2 separate regions of the Homo sapiens genome follow, and region 2 is linked to region 1. Evidence: fine-mapped QTL for protein levels in blood plasma. Region 1 holds a variant in brackets. A gene starts in the other region. All regions are shown on their reverse strands. Region 1 overlaps STAB1 (stabilin 1). Region 2 holds the start of ECE1 (endothelin converting enzyme 1).

Evidence for each region. A credible set is the group of variants that fine-mapping cannot tell apart. PIP is the posterior inclusion probability: the model's chance that the variant is causal. Protein levels are from antibody-based Olink assays in UK Biobank. Linkage for the fine-mapping came from a reference panel and not from the study's own genotypes, which makes the PIPs less certain.
Region 2: it holds the start of ECE1, and the variant in region 1 is the best candidate, but not a certain one, in a credible set for the plasma level of the ECE1 protein (UK Biobank, PIP 0.51).

What each region holds. Positions count from the first base shown.
Region 1 is chr3:52,518,817-52,521,820 of GRCh38, reverse strand. STAB1 (stabilin 1) reads right to left here. Exons shown (of 69, transcript NM_015136.3): 48 at 2,952-3,004; 49 at 2,417-2,557; 50 at 2,257-2,316; 51 at 1,701-1,877; 52 at 1,531-1,617; 53 at 1,272-1,421; 54 at 1,123-1,179; 55 at 816-1,017; 56 at 311-460; 57 at 121-225. Among named protein-coding and RNA genes, the nearest start is that of NT5DC2, 14 kb to the left of the region's middle. RefSeq lists enhancers at 1,550-2,156, 2,157-2,765 and a silencer at 2,330-2,473. The variant C/T (reference allele first, on the strand shown) is at 1,306.
Region 2 is chr1:21,289,177-21,291,676 of GRCh38, reverse strand. It overlaps ECE1 (endothelin converting enzyme 1), which reads left to right and starts at 1,214. Exons shown (of 19, transcript NM_001397.3): 1 at 1,214-1,313; 2 at 1,521-1,607. The coding sequence starts at 1,263. RefSeq lists silencers at 1,133-1,312, 1,363-1,532 and an enhancer at 2,209-2,500.

The sequences.
Region 1 (3,004 bases):
AGAACCAGGTTAGTAGTTGCCTTCCTGGCCTCTGCCCGTTCCACCCACCCTTGGTGCCTTTACTGATGTGTGCACATGTACACAAGTGTGTAGGGTGGGCACGAGCACGGGGCTACTCACCCAGTTGCACCTCACAGCGTGGCCCAGTCCAGCCTTCATCACAGAAGCAGGAGCCAGAGCCCCCAAGGCCCTCATCACAGCGGCCATGCACAGTGCAGCGGCAGGCTGGGGAGAGGGACAGGCAGGAAGATAAAGATTGGCCCACAAGGGCCAAAGGAATCGGGCCGTGGGGCAGGCAGGGATGGCCCACCTTGACAATGGGGCCCAAAGGCACCAGGAGCACAGAGTTCACAGGCTGTCCCAGCAAAACCTGAACGGCACAGACACTGCCCACTGCCACTCATGCCGTCCATGCACACGCCACGGTCACTACAAGGGCTGCTGGGGCCGCCAGGGCAAGCTGGGGATGGGGTAGGAGAAGTGAGGTGGGGCCAGGGGCTCTCACCAGGACCCCCATATACGTACCTCCAGCCTAGCCCTGCCATCTGTCCCTGACCTATGTCCGCCCACTGCTAAGATCCCTCCAGGCCCATGTCCTGGAGAACATCCAGACCCCCCAGCACTCCTCCCCAGGTTCTGCACCGTCCACACTACCGCCATGCCTCTCCCGAGCACTCCCGCTAGTAAAATCTACTCACCACCCAGAGCTCCCCAGCCCTGGACGCCCCAACACTCTCTCAAGGACAATGGCCAGAGCTGTGCCTTGGCTCTCTTGGGGAACAGAGGAGCTAGTCAACAGTGTCTGCAATGCTCACCTTGGCACTCACTGCCATAGTGACCAGGGCAGCAGCTGGGCTTCCAGGTGGTGGTGACACAATTGCGGTGGCAGCCCCTGCCCAGGCCTTGGGGCCTACCCCAAAGGCTGGGGTGGACCCAGACGCTGCGTAATCCCAAAGAGTGCAGCGGAGGGGACGTCCAGAACTTCGGGTAGAAGCGCCAGCAGGCCTCAGGGCTGCCCTGGGCCAAAGGAGTCAGGCCGCAGTTGGGTGGTTCTGAGTTTGGTGGTCCTTGGGCTCTGCCTGCCCCCACCCCACCACCCCCACTCAGCCCCTAGCCCTGTACCTGCTCCTGTGACCCCTCAGGACAGGGTGGCTCCAGCCCACAGATGCTGCAGGTGTTCTGGAAGGGAGGGAGGCCAATACAGCAAAGTCAGGTGGATGGACACCACAGGCGGGGTGGGCTTCTGCCCGTCTGCCTCTGGCCTCCCTCACCAGTCGCAGGGGCCGGGTCTCAAAGTGGTCACAG[C/T]GAGCACCAAGGCCAGGTGGCTCCAGCAGCTGGTCGATGCCATAGGCCAGGCCACCCTCAAAGGGCAAGTGCCGCTGCACAATGCGAGCATCATCCTCACCCACCATGAGCTCACCCTGCAAGGAGAGAATATGAGGTATGCAAGGGTCGCAGGTGCACTCCAGCTGCTACTGCCAGGGCCCCTGCCTCCTACTCCCTTCATCCAAGCCCTCTCCCCAGACTCACGGCCCGCGTTCGGCTGCAGGAGAAAGAGATGGGGGTCCCATGCATGGTTCGAAGTGGGCCCAGGTTGGGCAGGTCAGATGCCAAGGCCTGAGCAAGTGGAGTCATGGTTGGAGGTGGAAAGGCAGGCTGAGCTGCAGGCAGTGAAGACCAAGGTTGGGGGCTGCACCCACCTCGACATTGCGAATCATGTGGCCCCGCAGAATGGCTGCTAGCTTGTCACGGTGGTCCTCATGGTACAGCCAGGCCTGGCGATCCGGAGGCAGAGCTCGAAAGGCGGCGTCTGTGGGCCACAGCATTGTGAAGGGCCTATGGGATGCCTCTCGAAGCAGGGGCAGGAGGCCGGCCACCTGGTGGGGTGCAGCAAAGATGTGGCAGTCGCTGCCCAGTCAGAGACTAGTTAGCAAAGGCAGGGGGCTGTGCCACAGAGCAGGAAGGGGCTCCACACTCACCCACACTCATCTGTGACCATCCCAGGCAGGCATGTGTGTGCACACATCTCAACTGTGCACACTGCTGTCAGGAATGTGGGCACACATAAGCACACCCATGTGCTCAACCTGGGGTGCACATGCACACAGATGTGGCTTGTGCACACATGAGTTCACACAGGCTCACACGGGACAGTGTGCACACAGGTGGGTATGCACACACAGGTACGCATACACACTTGCACACACTTACACGTGCATGTGTGTCCACAATGACAGGCCCACACGGGAGCAGTACCTTCAGGAGGCCGCTGAAGATCTTGTAACCGAAGCCCTGGGCGGCGGCGGTGACATTTCTCTGAGGAAAGGCTCTCATAAACAGCTAGGCCAGGCGGGAAGGGAGGATCCCAGGCCCCCACCTGCCTGTCTTCCAGCTCCCAGGCCCGTGCTTGTCATACCCTCGGGATGGGAGCATCATCAGGCTCCCAGTGCAGCGCCTCGGGGGGCAGCAGGACACGGTCAATGAAGTGCAGGATGCCGTTCACGGCCTCATGGTCGCTGCTCACCACGCGCGCGAAGTCATTGAGGTATATGCTGCCCTGGGGGCGGGGCACGGGGCTGATGAAGCAGATAGGTGGGGTGCTCGGAAGCTATCGGGGCCTGAGGTGGAGGTTGAACCTGGGTTGGGCAAGTCAGGGTGCAGGCAGTCCCGGTTCTTCGGGACCAGGACGAGGTGGGCGGGGTCTGGGGCGGAGTCAGGGCAGGGGGCGGGGCTCAGTCCTCGGAAGGACACAAGGGCGCTGGGCAGGACAGGCCCACAGCAGTGGGCGAGGCCCAGGTCAAGGGCGGAGTCCCGGGCTGGACTCAGCAGGAGGCGCCCCCTGGCTAGGGGAGGTGGGGTTCTTGACTGCGTGGGCCGTGGGGCCTGGGGCAATGGCGCGCAGGGGCGGGGCGGGGCGGGATGGAGCGGGGCAGGCCAGGGCCAGGGCTCACCTCCCTCTCGCTGAAGCGCAGTGGGTGCCCTGAGAGGGCCGTGGCGTACCCCT
Region 2 (2,500 bases), not on the chromosome of region 1:
TTTTTGTATTTTTAGTAGAGATGGGGTTTCATCATGTTGGCCAGGCTGGTCTTGAACTCCTGACCTCAAGTGATCTACCCAACTTGGCCTCCCAAAGTGTTGGGATTACAGGCGCGAGCGAGCCATGGTGCCTGGCCTCAGCCAGATTTCATTTTAAAGGCTCATCCTGGCTGCTGAGGGGGCTGTCAGAGGGCAGGAGTGGAAGCCAGGAGACCATCTGGAGCCATTGCCCTCACTGTCCCTGTGACGTCAGGCCCCTCACCCCTCTAAACCTGTTTATTCACACATATGTGTGACTGTGAGAATCAAATTTGGAATGAGCAGAAATGCACTTTGCAAAGCTGAAAAGTACGCATAAATGCAGGGATTCCCGCCTTGCTAGAAGCGGAGAGTCCTTTGGAAATCTGCTGGGTTAGACCTCTCTGGGGTTCTTGGTTGGGACAGTGCTGGGCCTGAGTCCCTAACTGAACACCTCATATCCGAGAGAGCCCCCTTTCCCTGCCTAGGGTTATAGGAGAGGGCTCAGGGGCTGGGGAGGGGGGCACCTGGCTGAGGCTCCGAGTCTTGAGGGGGAAGATGGGAAAGAAGGGTCCCCTTCCTGGCTTCTGACTCCCCCTGGAGCAATGGTTCTCTTGTGTTGCAGGGAGGGCGACACCTTTGAGCACGGGGGTGACCACCGGACCACCCTGCAGCCATCCAAATGCACACACACAGCTCCTTTCATCCCGTGTCAGGGAGTTCTCTGAAATTTTCTGAAACTCATTCACGAACTCTGGCTTAAAGGCCTCTGAGCTAGAAAGGGGAACTGAAAGGGGACACCTACCTTTTTACCCCACCTTTTTTGTCTGGTCTTTCTAGCATTAACCCCCTAGACACACCTAAGGGCTGATGCCGGGGGGAACCTGTCTTGATTGCTCTGGGCCACATCGAGGGCACCTTCCTGATACTTTTGTTATCTGCCACTGGGGACCCGGTTGTTGAAGGGGGACTTAAGATTTTCTCGAAGGAGGGGTCACTGTGAGGGCCTTTCCTGCCTGCTAGGGGCTTCAGTTTGGGGGCCCCCACTCCCGACCTCCGGGGAAGGGAGGGGTCCCCATCTCCCCCGGGCCTCTCGGGTCTTGGGGTCTCCCCGGGAGGCCGGAGGTTGGGAACCGGGCGCCGGCGAACCGATCAGGCCCCGCCCGCGAAGGTGGTGCAACGCCTGGCCCGGCCCATCCCATCCCGGCCACCCGGGCAGCGGGACCAGGCGTCTGGGGCACAGCATGCGGGGCGTGTGGCCGCCCCCGGTGTCCGCCCTGCTGTCGGCGCTGGGGGTGAGGCGGGCGCGGCCTGGAGGGCGGGGGCGGGAGGCGGGCGGGACCCCTCCCCGCGCGGGCCGCTCCGTGGGCCGGTCTCGGTCTCGGGTGTCCAGGCCGGGGCGGGGCGCGGCGGCGGCGGCGCCAGGGTCGGGGCCGCTTCCCCATTCGGGCGCGAGAGCCATGGAGGCGCTGAGGGAGTCCGTGCTGCATTTGGCCTTGCAGATGTCGACGTACAAGCGGGCCACGCTGGACGAGGAGGACCTGGTGGACTCGCTCTCCGAGGGCGACGCATACCCCAACGGCCTGCAGGTAGGCGCCCTCCGCTCCCTCCCGAGGTCCAGGCGCCCCGGGCCCGGGCATGCGCGCTGCCGCTGCCGCGCCCCCCGCCCCTACCTACCCCGCCTCTTCCCCTCCCTTCCCCTCCCTCGTCCCGGCATCCGGGAGGGGCCGCGCCTCCCCGCAGCTGGAGCTCCGCGCTGAGAAGCCTTCCGGAGCCCACCAGTCTCCCCTCACCTGCCCCCGCCATCCCTAGAGCCTCCCGGCCACCTGCTTCTGGGGCCACAGCCCAGGTGGCAGAGTTGAAAGCACCCCCGAGACCCGAACTGGTCCAGTTCCCTTTCCACAGAAGGCACAGTTTGTGCATGTCCCGGGACTTGCCCAGGCCCTTTACCGGCAGAGTCTACGGCTGTTTCTGTTTTAGCGTGGAAAGCCCTGCATCCCTGGAACCCACTCCCCCAGTCCGGGGCAAACTGGGAAAGTTGGTCACCTTATCCGGGAGGCAGTACCACCCTCTTCCTCTTGCCCTCCCAATACCTGAGTTTCCTGGGGCCAGAAACCTGTTCTCTGCCCCCTCTCCCTGCCCCTTTTCCAGCCTACTAAGGAAGTCCAATTCCTCCCCTCCCCAGGGTCTCCGCCCGTGGGCATCCCATCTGCCCACTCCTGGGGAGGGCCCCACCCCCGTCCCTGCCTTGTAACAGGACATTGAGCAAGGCTGCTTTCTGCCCTCCCGTCCCTGGGGGGCTGCACTGGGACAGTTGTGGCCAAGACCTCAGTGCTGGAGGGGTTTGGAGCCAGCCAGGTGCGTGGGAAGGTGCTGGAAACGCTGCGGACACCCTAGGAGACCCAGTGATCTGGCTCTTGAGAAGCCAGTGTAGAAAGAGGAGCTGGGGCACCCCAATTCTCGGAGGACTTCTGCCAGGTAG